Linked DNA regions of Homo sapiens: region 2 is linked to region 1. Evidence: fine-mapped expression QTL. Tissue or cell type: whole blood. Region 1 holds a variant in brackets; the other region holds the start of a gene. All regions are shown on one strand. Distances are between the middles of the regions.

Region 1 (8,178 bases):
TAGAATAGACAGTACACCCTGAGAGAGAGAGAATTCAGAGTGGGCTGCTTGTAAGGACGAGACAGCAAAGACTGGCACTAGGGAGACTCTTTTAAAGGGAGCCTTACATGATGGTTCCTAAGTAGGTGGGAAGAGGCGTTGCCAGGAAGCATGTTCTGGGTGGTCCTCTGGGTGCACAGCTGTAGTAGCTGTACATGCTTGTTCATTTGTCACTGTCTCATTAGCATCTTACATCTCTACCCAGGGATGTGTTTTTTACTATTACAATGAACAAAGAGTCAGTCGGAGGACAGGTAAAATCAAAATGTGCTTGCTCCCTACAGGGAAAATCCCCTACTGAAGATAGCTGTGCTTGAATGAGCTCAATTACAATGAGAATGCTGAGGCTTATGGTGTTGACTGTATGGTCACCATAGTTGCTGTGTCCAGAGAACCTGGTCATTTTTTTTTTTTTTTTTTTTTTGCTACCTATCCTGCCTCAGTTTTAGTTATCTATTTCTTCTTCTTTTTTTTTTTTTTAAACTTTTCATTGTTACATGGCCTTCCAATGAAATACCTATTTCTTTTTTTTTTTTTTTTTTTTTTTTTTTTTGAGATAGAGAGCGTCTCACTCTGTCGCCCAGGCTGGAGAGCAGTGGTGCAATCTCAGCTCACTGCAACCTCTGCCTCCCAGGTTCAAGCGATTCTCCTGCTCAGCCTCCTGAGTAGCTGGGATTACAGGTGCGTGCCACCACACCCGGCTAATGTTTTTGTATTTTTAGTAGACATGGGCTCTCACCATGTTAGCCAGGCTGGTCTTAAACTTCTGATTTCAGGTGATCTGCCCGCCTCAGCCTCCCAAAGTGCTGGGATACACCACCGCCCCTGGCCTGTTTCTTCTTAAGTAAACTTTAGTAGCTTCTGTCTTTCAAGGAATTTGTAGATTTCATTTTAATACTCAAATTTATTGGCATTAAATATTTCCTGACTATCCTTTTAATGCCTGTAGCATCTATAGTGATGTTCTTTCTTTCATCCCTCATATTGGTATTTTGTATTGTCATCTTCTCATCCTCCTTCTCCTCCTCCTCTCCTCCTCCTTCCCTGTCAGTCTAATTATTAATTTTATTGACCTTATCAAAGAACCAGCTTTTGGTTTCATTGATTTTTCTCTTTTCAATGTTATTGATTTCTGCTGTTATATTAGTCTTGGGTTTAAATTGCTCTTCTTTTTATGGTTTCTTAATGTAGAAGCTCATTTAGAACATTGATTTGAGACTATTCTTTAAGCACTTAATGCTATAAATTTCACTTAATGCTATAAATGGAGCACTGTTTTAGCTTCATTCCACAAATCTTTATATGTTGTATTTTCATTTTTATTCAATACCAATTACTTTTTAATTTCCTTTGCAACTTCCTCTTTGACCCAGGTTATTTAAAAGCTTGTTGTTTAATTTTAAAATGTTTTGGGGCTCTCATATCTTTCTCTTATTGTTTTTTAGTTTGATTTCATTATGATCAAATCAAATAACATATATATATAGATATATAGATATATAGATATATATTTTTTTGAGGTGGAATTTTGCTCTTGTCGCCCAGGCTGGAGTGCAATGGCATGATCTCGGCTCACTGCAACCTCTGCCTCCCGGGTTCAAGTGATTCTCCTGCCTCAGCCCCCCAAGTAGCTGGGATTACAGGCACATGCCACCACACCCAGCTAATTTTTGTATTTTTAGTAGAGACAGGGTTTCACCATGTTGGCCAGGCTGGTCTTGAACTCTTGACCTCAGGTGATCCACATGCCTCAGCCTCCCAAAGTGCTGGGATTACAGGCATGAGCCACCACGCCCGGCCCATATATTTTTTAAGATTTCAGTTTTTAAAAATGTATTATGGCTTGTTTTATGGTCCGGGATGTGGTCTGTGTTGCTGAGTGTTCCGTGTGCACTTGAAAAGGATGTGTATTCTGCTGTTGTTGAGTGGAGTATTCTATAAATGTCAAGTAGGTCAACTTAATTGATAGTATTGTTCAGGTCTTCTCTATTCTTACTGATTTTCTGACCACTTGTTCTACTGGCTACTGAGAAAGGAATGTTAACATCTCCAACTGTAATTGTGGATTTATCTATTTCTCATTCAGTTCTGTCAGCTTTTGTTTCACATTTTTGAAATTATTTTGTTATTTTAAATAGTCACATTTTCTTTTATTTATTTATTTGTTTATTTTCTTTGCAATGGAAGTCTAACTATGTTGCCCAGAGTGCCCTCAAACTCCTGGGCTCAAGTGATCCTCCTCAGCCTCCTAGACTTTAGCTAAGACTAAAATAGTCATATTTTCTTAGTGAACTGAGTCTTCCTTTTATAATTATATAATGCCCATCATTATTCCTGATAATATTCCTTGTTCTGAAGTCTACCTTGTCTAATAAATAGCCAATCCTACTTTCTTTTGATAAGTGTTTGCATACAGTATCTTTTCCCATCCTTTCAATTTAACCTGTCTAAATCTTTATATTTAACATGGGTTTCTTGTTGACAGCATATAGTTGTGCTTTCATTTTTTTTAATCCCATCTGAAAATCTTTGTTTTTTAGTAGAGGTGTTTATGGCATTTATATTTAATTAAATTATTACCTGTTTTGTCTCCTTTGGTTTTTGTTCCTCTCTTCCCTGTTTTTCTACCTCCTTTTGAAGTATTTGAATATTTTTAGTATTATTTTTTAATTCATGAATTAGTTTATATTTTATGTGTGTGTGTGTGTTTGTGTTTAATGGTTGCTCTGGGGCATTATAATATACATACCTATCTCAGCATCTATTTAGAGTTGATATTGTAATTCTTTAAGTAAAATGTACCTTTACAACCATGTAAATTTCTTGATACTTTCTCAATTTTGTTATAATTGTCACGTTTTTGGTTTTGTTTTTTTTTTTTGAGGCAGAGTCTTGCTCTGTCGCCCAGGCTGAAGTGCAATGGTATGATCTTGGCTCACTGCAACCTCTGCCTCCTGGGTTCAAGCAGTTCTCATGCCTAGAGACAGGGTTTCACCATGTTGGCCAGGCTGGTCTTGCCTGGCCTCAAGCAATCCGCCCACCTCAGCCTCCCAAAGTGCTGGCATTACAGGTGTGAGCCACCACACCTGGCCTATCACATGTATTATATCTACATATATTAAAAACCATACCAGACAATGTGACAACTTTTGCTTTAAATGGTCATTGAGATTTTAAAGATCTTAAGGGAAAAAGTGTTGATTATGTTTATCCAGATATTTACCATTTCTGTCACTCTTTCTTTTTTACTGAAGATACAAGTTTTCTTCTCAGCTCACTTCTTTTCAACCTGAAGAACTTCCAATGTAGCCTTTCTTCCTGACCACAAAGTTTCCTACTTTCCTTCATCTGAAAATGTCTTTATTTTACTTTCATTTCTGAAGGATAGTTTCACTAGACATACCTATCTCAGCACTTTTTTTTTTTGAGACAGAGTCTCGCTCTGTCGCCCAGACTGGAGTGCAGTGGTGTGATCTCGGCTCACTGCAACCTGTGCCTCCCGGGTTCAAGCAGTTCTCTGCTTCAGCCTCCTGAGTAGCTGGGATTACAGGCGCCTGTCACCATACCCAGCTAATTTTTTTGTATTTTTAGTAGAGACAGGGTTTCACCATCTTGGCCAGGCTTGTCTTGAATTCCTGACCTCGTGATCCACCCGCCTTAGCCTCCCCAAGTGCTGGGATTACAGGCGTGAGCCACCGCGCCCGGCCCTTCTTTCAGCACTTTAAGGATGATACTCCGGTGGCTTTTGGCCTCCCTAGTGTCTGTTGGGGAATCCATGGTCACTGGAGTCATTATTTTCCTGTGTTAATATGTCACATTTCTCTTAACTACTCTCCTGAATTTTTTTAGTGTTTGGTTTTCAAGTTTTATTATGATATGTATGAGGGTGGTTTTCTTTTAATTTAACCTGTTTGGGTTTCATTGAGCTTTTGATAATTTTCCCATAAGTTCCTGAAACCTTCCTCTTTTTCATCTTTTTTTCTCTCTATCATTCATATTATATAATCTTTATTAATCAGTCTTCAAATGAATGACCCTCCTCTGTGATCACCATTCCACTATTGTTTTATTTTAATTTCAGACATTGTATTGTTTAGTTTTAAATTTTCTAATTTTTTAAAAAATAGTTTTTCTGGGCTGTGAACTTTCATCTTTCCATACTTGAAATATTAAAGGGCTTTACCTCATGGAGTACAGTTATAATAGCTGCTTTAAAGTTTCTTTCTGCCAGTCCCAACATCTGTGTCATCCCGGAGCTGACATCTATTGATTGCCTTTTTCTTTGAAAATTGGTTCTATTTCCTGATTCTTTGTATGTAGAGTAATTTTTTATTGTTTCCTTGGCATTTTATTCTATTTATTTATTTATTTATTTATTTATTTATTTATTTATTCTATTTATTTATTTAGAGACAGGGTCTTGCTCTGTTGCCCAGGATGGAGTGCAGTGGTGCAGTCACAGCTCACTGCAGCCTCAACCTCCTGGGCTAAAGTGATCCTCCCACTTCAGCCTCCTGAGTAGCTGAGACTACAGGTGCACTGGCACCACACCCAGCTAGTTTTTTGTATTAATATTTTCTGTAGAGACGGG[T/G]TTTTGCCATGTTGCCCAGGTTGGTCTCGAACTCCTGAGCTCAGGTGATCCACCCAGCCTCCCAAAGTGCTGGGATTACAGGTGTGAGCCACCGTGCCTGGCTATCCCTGACATTTCAGTGTTATGTTCTGTAGACTGTGGGTCCGTATTATAATCTTTTGAAGAATGTAGATGTTTTTTGTTTAACAGGAAACCCTGCAGACCACAGGTTCTGTCTGATCTTCTGTGGGTAGTGGTTTCAGTGTTAGTTTAGTTGGGTCTTTGCTTTTTTTGTTTTTTGCTATACTGCTTGGCACCTGTCTCACTCATACTCAGCTCAGGGGTGAATCTCTGTGTTCACACACACAGTTAGGAATTTCCCTTTTCCTGCGCTCTTCTCTTTGTTTTTGAGACGGAGTCTCGCTCTGTCCCTCAGGCTGGAAGTTCAATGGTATGATCTCGGCTCACTGCAACCTACGCCGCCTGAGTTCAAGTGATTCTCATGCCTCCTTCCCAAGGAGCTGGGATAACTGGCATGTGCCACCACACCCGGCTGATTTTTGTATTTTTAGTAGAGACAGGGTTTCACCATGTTGCCCAAGGCTGGTCTTGAACTCCTGACCTCAAGTGATCCACCTTTCTCGGCCTCCCAAAGTGCTGGGATTACAGGCGTGAGCCACTCCGCCTGGCCTTCTGTGCCCTTCTCTTTGGGATTCATCCCATACTCACTGGACTGCACAGGCCTCTTTTCCTGGTTCTCTGGCCAGAAACACAAGGTTTCTTACAGAGTTTTAGCCAGCTTTTCTACTGCACTACTGGGCAGGTCTGGAATTGGTGCAAAGCCAGGAGAGCAAAAGGGTGAAAAAAAAAATAGGAAACTTATCCCCTGTACCAGTCTTGTCTGCAAGTTTTGACTCCCCTTCGTGCCACCTGCTTTTGTTTGGTTTTCAGAGTCCTCAAGTAGCTGCTTTCATATTTGATGCAGAGTTTTCACTGTAATTATCAGGAGACACAGCCTGTCTTGGCTTACCTCACCATGCCAGAACTCCCTGGAATGCTCTCTTTTTGATCACAGGCGGGCCTTTCCCCCCATCAGATGCTCTTAAGAGCCCTCTGTCAATGCAGGTTTTGGGTTATTAGGCACCTGTGAAGGTGTGGGTTTCTTGGGAAGGAACTGTCTGAGGAACTCTAAGGTCCTTAGAGAGAAGTGTCATGGATCTCTTCTCCCTCCTGTTATAAAAGACAGAAACCCAATCCCAGCTGGCTTAAGAAGGAAAGAACACTTGCTGGCGTCTGACCAGGAGGGCAGGAGTGTTGCCAGGGATTCTTCTTCTCATCTCTGGACATTGCTTCCCTGTGCTGAGTTCATCTCAGGCAGTCCCCTCCAGGGGCTGACAAGGTGACTCACCTTGGCCTTCATCCCTCCAGTTTAACAACCCCAGAGGACAGCAGGTAGCTTTTCTTCAGTAGTTCCAGCAAACGTCCCAAAGCTCACACTGGACCAGTGAGGGTCACGTGCTTATCTCTGAATCAGTTCCTGAGGCTAAGGGCATGGAATATGCTGCTTGGCCAGCCTGGATCAGATGCTCAGCCCAGGGCCAGCGGGGGTAGGGATGTCAGTTCACCTGGACCTCAGGGGCTGACAAGGGGGATACTAAAGTATGCATTCTCGGCCAGGCGCGGTGGCACATGCCTGTAATCCCTGCACTTTGGGAGGCCCAGGCAGGCAGATCACTTGAGGTCAGGAGTTTGAGACCAGCCTGGCCAACATGGTGAAACCCCATCTCTACTAAAAATACAAAAATTAGCCAGGTGTGGTGGTGCACACTTGTAATGCCAGCTACTTGGAAGGCTTAGGCAGGAGAATTGCTTGATTCCATCTCAAAAAAAAAAAAAAAAAAAAGTGCATTTTCAGCCCGGCTAGTGTTACCCTAAAGGAAGCAAAATAACTGAAATATGACAATGGTTTGTCAGATTGACGATATTGTCTGTTGGACTAGTATTTCATGGGGGGAGAGGGATTAGGGAAAAATGTCTAAAAGAACTTCTGTAGGGACTGTAATTTTTTAAAAAGGTTGAGAAACACTTCCCTGCAGGAAACTGAGGTGCTGTTACCAGAAGAGGGGGGTGGATACCAAGCTGCTGAAAACAGCACCTGCCCACTCTGGGGGAGTTGGAAGCTGAAACCAGCGGCAGGCAGGAGTAGGCCAGTGTGGAGCACCTGCTCAGAGGGGCTTGGTGGGGAGCCGCGTAGGGTGCTGGCCGCTGCAAAGCTGAGCCTCTTCTTTGGTTTCTCTGGCCCGGGGGTTCTGCGTTGAAGATTATACTGTAGGAAGCATGGAGAGGACCCTGACCCAGCTACTCTCTGCTGTCTCTGCTGCAGGTGAAGAACGAGGTGGAGAAGCTCCCCCGACAGCAGCGGAAGGAAAGCATGAAGCAGAAGATGGAGGAGCACACGCAGAAAAAGCAGCTTCTTGTGAGTCCCTGGCCTCAGCTGGGGAGCGCAGGGGCTGGTGCGAGACCTGGAATGGTGACCAGGCCCCCTCTCTGCCTTTGCCCAATCCCTGCCCCTCAAATACCCCGTTCTGAATACCTAAATCTGGCCTCATCCTTCATGGCCCCATTATCCCCTCCTCCATGCAGCCTTCCTCGATTGCCCTGCCTCCATCTGGAAGTAAGCTCTTCCATCTCTGGATACCCCAACACTTTACATTGACCACCTCCCAAACCCTTAGCACCTCCTACCTTGTTTTAGGGTTATTTATTTGTAAGTCACATCTCCTTGACCAACCCAGTATATTCCCCTGCCCACTTGGCATCTTTTAAGTCTGAAGGACATCAAACTTGTGATGTCCCAGACCTGGTCCTGTTATGCTCTGAGGGGGTGCCATTTTCCTTCCTTTCTGGCCCATCATTCCTGACGCCTCCTTTCCCTCCAGTCCTTCGTCACCTCCAGAAGCATGGTATGTATATTTCTTATCTCCTGTCTCTGGATCTATGAACTCGTCACCATCTCCATGATCCCCCAGCCACTGTCCAGTGGCCTCCCAGCGAGGCTTCCTGTAGCTGTTTTTCCCCTGCAGTTTCTTCTCTCCTGCCTGCGTGTGATCAATGTGAATTCCAAGTCTGATAATAGCACCCTTCCCCCCACAGCCCTGTGCCTTAAAACCCTTCAGTGGCTCCCACATTGTCCCTAAGATAAGCGCCGCCTCTTTGCTGTGCCCTGGCCGGCCTCCCCAGCCTTCTTTTCATCCTTTGCCGGAATGCTCCTATTTTCCCCCACGAGGGGGTCTTTGTGTGTTCTGCTTCCTCAGCCCCCAAAGCAAAGAATTTTTGAGTCCATATTTAGAAATGCTTTGTATATTACCTGCTTCAGCATTCATAGCTTACTATGGTAGGAGCTGTTCATTTTCCCATTCGCAGAAGAGGAAACAAAGGCTGAGAGAGGTAACATTGCTGAGTTCACATTCAGGGAGGGGGTCGAGGCCTCAAGCTTGTGTTCTCTCCGGGACACCCTATGACCTGTCTGTCCCATTACAGCACGATTAGGAAGAGAACGCAGGACTGGT
Region 2 (8,178 bases), 120 kb before region 1:
TTTTCTTTTTTCTTTTTTTTTTTTTTGAGACAGGATCTCACTCTGTCTCCTAGGCTGGAGTGCAGTGGTATGGTCATACCTCACTGCAGCCTTGAATCCCAGGCTCAAGCTATCCTCCCACCTCCACCTCCTCATAGCTGGGACTATGCCCATGTGCTACCACGTTGTATTTTTTGTAGAGATAGGATCTTGCTACATTGCCAAGGCTGGTCTTGAACTCCTGGCCTCAAGCTATCCTCCCACCACAGCCTTCCAAAGTGTTGGGATTACAGGTGTGAGCCATGGTGCCCAGCCCCTCCTCTGTCTTAATTTTCTACTCCCTACTCACTCCCAAATAAACCACTTACACTCAAATCCTTGCCTCAGGGTCAGTCTCTAAGGGAATCCAACCTAAGAATACTATAAAATGCTTTTTCTGTGACTATTAAGACTATGTGATTTTTCTCCTTTACTCTGCCAATGCAGTGCTATTACAGTAGATTTTCTGATGTAGAACCATTCTTTTATTCCTGGATAAACCTTTTGTGGTTACGATATTTTTATTCACCTCTGGTTTGATCTTGCTAGCATTTGTATTTTCCCTGTCTTTTTAAGAACTGAAATTAGGCCGGGCGTGATGGCTCACACATGTAATCCCAGTACTTTGGGAGGCTGAGGCGGGCGGATCACGAGGTCAAGAGATTGAGACCATCCTGGCCAACATGGTGAAACCTCATCTCCACTAAAAATACAAAAATTAGCCGGGCGTGGTGGCACGTTCCTGTAGTCCCAGCTACTTGGGAGGCTGAAGCGGGAGAATCGCTTGAATCTGGGAGGTGGAGGTTGCAGTGAGGTGAGATCACACCATTGCACTCCAGCCTGGCGACACAGCAAGACTCTCTCTGTCAAAAAAAAAAAAAAAAAAAAATGAAATGAAATTAGTCTACAATTTTCTTTCTCTCTCTCTCTTTCCTCTCCTTCCCTTCCTTTTTAAGACAGGGTCTCACTGGAGACCAGGCTGGTGCAGCGGTGAGATCACTGTTCACTGCAGCCTCGGCCTCCTGGGCTCAAGGAATCCTCCTGCCTCAACCTCCTGAGTAGCTGGGACCACTGGTGTGCACCACCACGCCTGGCTAATTTTTTGACTTTTTGTAGAAACAGGGTCTCACTTTATAGCTCTGGCTGGTATGGAACTCCTGGGCTCAAGTGATCCTCCCACCTCAGCCTCCCAAAGTGCTGGAATTACAGGTGTAAGCCACTGTGCCTGGCTTACAATTTTCTTTTACTGTCCTTATCTAGTAATAGTAAAACTCATCTTATAAAATAAATTGGCAGATTTCCTTCATTTTCTATCTTTTAAAATAATTTATATAAAGAAAGAAATTATTTGTAAAACCACACAGACTGATGTCTTTCACCAAGAACAAGCTTTTGATTCTTGATTTTTGTGGTTGTTGTTTTTTGGGTTTTTGTTTGTTTGTTTTTGTTTAGAGACAGAGTCTCACTGTGTTGCCCAGGCTCGAGTGCAGTGGTGTGATCTCGGCTCACTGCAACCTCCGTCTCCTAGGTTGAAGGGATTCTTGTGCCTGAGTCTCATGAGTAGTTGGGACCACAGGCACGCACCACCACACCCGACTAATTTTTGTATTTTTAGTAGAGACAGAGTTTCACCATGTTGCCCAGGCTGGTCTCGAACTCCTGACCTCAGGTGATTCACCCGCCTCAGCCTCCCAACGTGCTGGGATTACAGGCATGAGCCACTGTGCCCGGCCTGATTCTTGATTTGATTTCTTTATTGGTTACTAGTTTATTTAGGTTTTTATTTCTTATTGAAATTATCTTTTACCTATCATTTATATTTTCTTCTCAATAATTACCCATTTTATGTAAATTAAAACATTTATTCACATAAATTTGTCTAAAATATCACTTTATGATTATCAAAATTTCTACAGTATCTAATCTGATGTTCTCTTTTCATTTTTTATTTCTTCCAGTGAATATTTCTTTCTTGCACCAATTTTTTTTTTTTCTTTTCTTTTTTTTTTTGAGACGGAGTCTTGCTCTGTTGCTCAGGCTAGATGGAGTGCAATGGTACGATCTCGGCTCACTGCAACCTCCATCTTCTGGGTTCAAGTGATTCTTCTGCCTCAGCCTCCCAAGTAGCTTGGGTTACAGGCGTGCACCACCCCGCCCGGCTAAGTTTTGTATTTTTCGTAGAGCTGGGGTTTTGCCATGTTGGCCAGGCTGGTCTTGAACTCCTAACCTCAGGTGATCCACCCAGCTTGGCCTCCCAAAATGCTGGGATTACAGGTGTGAGCCACCGTGCCCGACCCTTTTTTTCTTTTTCTTTGACTAGTCTTGTCTATTAGTTATTTCAAAGAAGTAGCTTTGATTCTATTGAACCTCAATGTATTTCTTACAATGCTATTGAGGTATAATTTACACATAAAATTCATCCATTTACAAAAATGAAAGTTTAAAATTCAATTATTTTTGGCAAATTTACCAAATTATGAAATTGTCACCATTGTGCAGTTTTAGGACATTTTCATCACCCCAATTAGACTGTTTATTGTTCATGTACAGTTAATTCCCATTTCACACCCAGCTCCAGGCAACCATTAATCTACTTTCTGTCTGTATGGATTTGCCTTTTCCAGACATTTCATATAAATGGAAATTTATAGAACACAGGGCCTTTTGTGTCTGGCTTCTTTGACTTAGTGTTATTGAATGAATGAACCTCTCCGTTTTTCTTTCCCTTCCTTCCTCCCTCCCTCCCTTCCTTCCTTCCCTCCCTCCCTCCCTCTTTCTCTCTCCTTCTCTTCCTTTCCTTTTTCTTTCTCTCTTTCTTCCTTTCCTTTCCCTTTCTCTTTCTTTCTTTCTCTCTTTCTCTCTTTCCTTTCTCTCTTTCTTCCTTTCCTTTCCCTTTCTCTTTCTTTCTTTCTCTCTTTCTCTCTTTCCTTTCTCTCTCTCTTTCTCTCGCTTGCTTGCTTTTCTGGAGCTCTCAGAGCTGGTCAGAGCCCTCCAGGCCTACAGCTTTCGTGGAGTCAGAGCCTTCATCTCCTAGTATGGAAGCAACCCTCTTGGTCTCCCCACCCGCTTCGTACAGTTGGCCAAATGGTCTGAAACAAATGAAAGACCTGCCTTTCAGCATGTTTTGGGAGGTTCAGACAGCGCCTGACTCAATGAGAACGGTCAGCGACGAGCGGCGTTTCCTTCTTTTAAAGACCCTCTACAATTCCAGGCACTCCTGCAGCTGTGGAAACATTCCGAACGGCTTAGCAACCAGGACACCCTCTGCGCCGACCACTACCAGCATCGCAGGCTTCTTGAGCTGGCTTTCCCAGTGGAAAACCATGCTTGGTGTTTGCACACTGTTCAAAGGATGTTTTCGAACAAAGCACCGAGGAAGGGGCGAAAACACCTCAACACAGCCGTTCTCTGGGGTTGGAGCTATTGAACTGTGACATTTGCGAAGACTCAACTTGTTTATGACACGGTCCAAATAATAACCCTTGCAGACTGCCCGCCCCCCCCCCCCACCCCCAGCACTCTCCTTAGATTCAGGTAAAAGCATGTTATAACCGTCTATAGGACAAACAGGCAACAGTAGCAGTGAAGTGACTCAAGTAGCCAGGATCGAGAATGAAGGTGCTCAAAGAAGACTTTAGTTTGATCTGTATGTAGTGCGCTCATCTTTTTTGAAACTAGGAAATTAAAAATTAGAATAAAGTTTTTATTTAATATGCAAATACATCCGCAAACCCATCAGGAAACATAAGAGAAATCAGTGCCAAAGGAGCTCTTTCTCCCAGCCCTCTAATCCTGGCAGGTTTGTGGATCGTGGACGGGGAGCCCCTGGAAAGGACCGCGCCGGGAAGCCGGGCCCTGCAGGGACTGGCCGCGGCTGCACCGGCGTTGCCCGTCGCACACTAGGAGGCAGCACCGCGCCGAGGAACCCGCAGCAGACGGGCAGCCAGCGTGTGTGCCTGGGGCGAGTGCCCTCGCCTGCCGGCGTCCCCATCGGAAAAGTGGGGGCGAGGGCAGCCTAGCGGAATAGCTGCGGGAGGATTAAATGAACGAGTGCAGGTTCACCTTCTGGGCGCTGACAACGATCCGTGGGCTCTCGCGAAATGCCAAGTCGCCGTCCCGCTTGCTCCCATAAAAGTTTTGGGAGCCACGCGGCGCGGCGGGCGGGCTCCTGAGTCCATGAGCGGTCCCACCGAGCGGTCCCCGAAGCTTCCCCAAAGCCCAGCCCGCGGCTCGCGGAGCGTGGTGTGGGGGGACTACAGTTTCCAGAGTGCCCTGCGGCGACGGGCGGAGCCGGGGAGCGCCCGCAGCCAATTAGGGGGTCCCGGGGCTCTGCCGGGGAGCGGCGGGTGGAGCCGGGCCGGTGGGCGGGCGCGGGGACGGTCCCCTGGAACGGGTCCGAGGCTCTCGCAGGCAGGGCTGGGCCGGGCAGGAGCTGCGAGGCCGGCACAAGGGAGGCGGCCCTGGGGACCTGACAGGGCGGGGGCGGGGGCGGGCACGCCGCCGCCTGCGCGGTTCCGGGTGCTCCCGGCGCGGCGCTGCCCAGGGCACACTTGACCGAGGTCGGGCTGCGGGGAAAGGCGGGTCTGGGGAGAACCCCGAGAGACGCGGCGTCCTCCAACTCCTCCTCCTTCTCCTCGCGGCCGCCGAAGCCACAGCCCGAGCCCGAGCCCGAGCCCGAGCCGGCGCCACCGCGCCCCCGGCCATGGCTTTTGCCAATTTCCGCCGCATCCTGCGCCTGTCTACCTTCGAGAAGAGAAAGTCCCGCGAATATGAGCACGTCCGCCGCGACCTGGACCCCAACGAGGTGTGGGAGATCGTGGGCGAGCTGGGCGACGGCGCCTTCGGCAAGGTTTACAAGGTGAGGGCGCTGAGGTGGGTGGCCGGACGCGCGTCGAGGGGCTCCGGAAGGAAGGGATGCCTGAGCCGGACCCGGCCAGCCTGGCTCCGGCTCCGAGGGCTGCCCGGCGCTGAATTCGGGGTCCCTGGCCCTCATCCCGATGACTCTTGTTTTTTGGGGGGAACATCACTCGGCCCGGCCGAGTCCCTGCGCTCTGGGCGCCCCCTCCGGGCACGGTTGCCGCCCCCACCCTAGCCCTGTTTCGGAGCACTTCCTGTGTGTCCTGCACTGCGCTCGGCGCCGCACGGGGAGACAAAGGGGCGTTGACAGGACCTCAGCATCCGAGAGGGCCACTCGAGGGACCTTCCAGGGACGTTCCGTAAAACGGCGATACGGGCACACTTTTTTTTTTAAGAGAGACCACAGATGCTGTGGGAATATCGAGGCGATGTGGACCGAGAAACTCGGCTGCGCTTGGACGGGTTGGGAGCTAGGGACACATCTGAAGATGAGCCAGAGACAGGGAAGTGGGGTGGGCGAGGGGTGGCCCATGGACTGAGAGGTGGGGCTTGGAAAGGTGGGTTGGGGCTGGTCAGAGGGGGAGGTCAGGATCTGGTGAATGCTGAGCCTGGGGGAACAGATTTGATTCCGTCGGTCTGAGTCACAGCTGGGGAGTCTCCCAGCCTGCAGTCACCTCTCCCCTAGAGGAAGACGCGGCAGAGAGCTTTTGTGGAGTGGGTGGGGCAGAGCTGATTGAGTCTAGAGAAGTGTGGCAGCAGGACGTTGGTTTCTGCTCCTGGGAGCTAATTCTGAGGTGGTGAGTTGTTTTAGGGAGCCAACACCTACAGCTTGACTCCCCCCTTTCCCCTAAGAAAATTTTTACTGGGAGACGCCCACTTGTTAAATTGGTGTATACCTCCAGGAGAGCACCTCTCTTCTAAGCCACTATCCTCCTCCTTGGGGCTCCTGTAGCTTGTAGGGCACTCTGACCCTAGGATTGCCGTTCTATGAGGCTGGACCACAGAGAAGGCTTCTCCAGGCCTTCTCCTCTGACTTGGAAGTGGTCTATCGCCTAGTTACCGAAGTAGTTCCTAGATGACCGGTGTTATAATAGCATCATTTGGGAGCTTGTCAGAAGTGAACAATCTCATGCCCAGCCCCGACCTGCTGAATTAGAGTCTACGTTTTAATAAGATCCCAGGTGATTCCTAAGCAAATAGGTTTGAGAAGTACTGCCCTAGAGGCTTGGAGTGGTGGCGTTTTTTCTTTTTTCTTTTCTTTTTTTTGAGACAGGGTTTCCCTCTGTTGCTCAGTCTGGAGTGCAGTGGCCCGATCTCGGCTCACTGCAACCTCTGCCTCCTGGGCTCAAGCAATTCTCCTGCCTCAGCCTTCGGAGTAGCTAGGTCTACAGGTGCACACCACAGCCCGGCTAATTTTTGTATTTTTTGTAGACTTGGGGTTTCGCCACGTAGCCCAGGCTTGTCATGAACTCCTGAGCTCATGAAATCAGCTCGTTTCAGCCTCCCAAAGTGTTGGGATTACAGCGGTGAGCCACCCTGCCTGACCTGGAGCGGTGGCAATTTTGAGACCAACCAGGCCCACTCAGTGTCTTTTTTTATTTTTATTTTTTGTGAGACGGAGTCTCACTCTATTGCCCAAGCTGGAGTGCGGTGGTTTGATCTCGGCCCTCACTGCAACCTCCACTTCCTGGGTTCAAGCAATTCTCCTACCTCAGCCTCCCAAGTAGCTGGGATTGCAGGCACACACCACCATGCCTGGCTAATTTTTGTTTTTTTAGTAGAGACGGGGTTTCACCATGTTGTCTAAGCTGGTCTCGAACTCCTGACCTCAGTTGATCCACCCACCTCGGCCTCCCAAAGTGTTGGGATTACAGGCGTGAGCCACTGTGCCTGGCCTGGTGCCTGTTTTGTTTCCTTGCCACCTCCCCTCTGAGCCCACACTTCCTGTTATGGGGTAGGGAGAGGTCTTGTGATCCGAGAGGCAGTGCTTTTGGACTGCCCCGACTTGCTGTCCTCCTTTGCCTGAGGGCCTTGCCCATATTTGAGGGCAGCCAGCTCACCCTGTCCTCAGCACGTCTTTTCTTTACTCTCCTCAGAGCTGCATCTTCTTCCTGGTGGCACCAGAGAACGATCCTCAGCCTTGCAACTGTCTCTGGACACTGCCAGTGTCCTTGACTGCCTTAGACAGAGCCTGCTCCTGCAGCTGTGCTCTGACTACTGTGAGGGCAGCTGGACCCCTGTGGTCAGCTCACCACAGGACCCACTTTCTCCAGAAGGTTCAGTTGGTGTTTTTAGCGTATGCTAAACATATGGGTTTTTTGGGCCGGGCGTGGTGGCTCACGCCTGTAATCCTAGCACTTTGGGAGGCTGAAGCAGGCAGATCATGAGGTCAGGAAATTCAGACCATACTGGCCAACATGGTGAAACCCTGTCTCTACTAAAAATACAGAAATTAGCCGGGCATGGTGATGCATGCCCGTAATCCCAGCGTCTCAGGAGGCTGAGGCAAGAGAAACGTTTGAACCAGGGAGGTGGAGGGTGCAGTGAGCTGAGATAGCGCCACTGCACTCCAGCCTGGCGACAGAGCGAGACTCTGTCTCAAAAACAAAACAAAACAAAACAAACATATGGGCTTTTTTTTTTCTCCGTTAGGGGCTTTCAATTGCATTCTTGTCCCCTTCCCCGCAGTGTGTCCTGGCTTCACAGGGTTCATCTTCCTTTAAACTTAAACGCAGAACTTTGCTTTCATGCTGGTAAGATTTCCCCTTGTCATTTTCAGTTGTGTTTCCTCCTGCTTTAGTCCCTTAAGACTCCCCTGCTACTCTGAAAGTTTCATACAAAGGAACTCATCCGATCCACAATCGATACTGTCTCCTCTTGGTTCTCCAAAGCACGTGGAAAGTCAGTTTTTAAAAAAGTGACTCCAGGGCCAGGTGCTGTGGCTCACGCCTGTAATCCTAGCACTTCAGGAGGCCGAGGCGGGTGGATCACTTGAGGTTAGGAGTTTGAGACCAGCTGGGGCAACATGGTGAAACCCCACCTCTACTAAAAATAAAAAAATAAAAAAATTAGCCGGGTGTGGTGGCGCGTGCCCTATAATCCCAGCTACTCGGGAGGCTGAGGCAGGAGAATTGCTTGAACCCGTGAGGCGGAGGTTGCTGTGGGCTGAGATCATGCCGCTGCACTCGAGTCTGGGGGACAGAGGGAGACTCTGTCTCAAAAACAACAACAATAAAAACAAAAAGTGACTTTAATTCTCAAAGTTGTGAGCTGTCTCCACCACAGCCCTCTCCGCCTACCTCC

The links. PIP is the estimated chance that this variant, and not a neighbour inherited with it, causes the effect.
Region 2: it holds the start of STK10, and the variant in region 1 is fine-mapped to the expression of STK10 in whole blood (TOPMed, PIP 0.99).

The regions. Positions count from the first base shown.
Region 1 is chr5:172,063,627-172,071,804 of GRCh38, reverse strand. STK10 (serine/threonine kinase 10) reads left to right here. Exons shown (of 19, transcript NM_005990.4): 13 at 6,993-7,085. Among named protein-coding and RNA genes, the nearest start is that of FBXW11, 61 kb to the right of the region's middle. RefSeq lists an enhancer at 4,987-5,036. The variant T/G (reference allele first, on the strand shown) is at 4,631.
Region 2 is chr5:172,184,585-172,192,762 of GRCh38, reverse strand. It overlaps STK10 (serine/threonine kinase 10), which reads left to right and starts at 4,539. Exons shown (of 19, transcript NM_005990.4): 1 at 4,539-4,876. The coding sequence starts at 4,721. RefSeq lists enhancers at 3,779-4,554, 5,607-5,686, 6,347-6,396, 6,667-6,716, 7,757-7,806 and silencers at 4,227-4,586, 4,887-4,936, 5,067-5,146.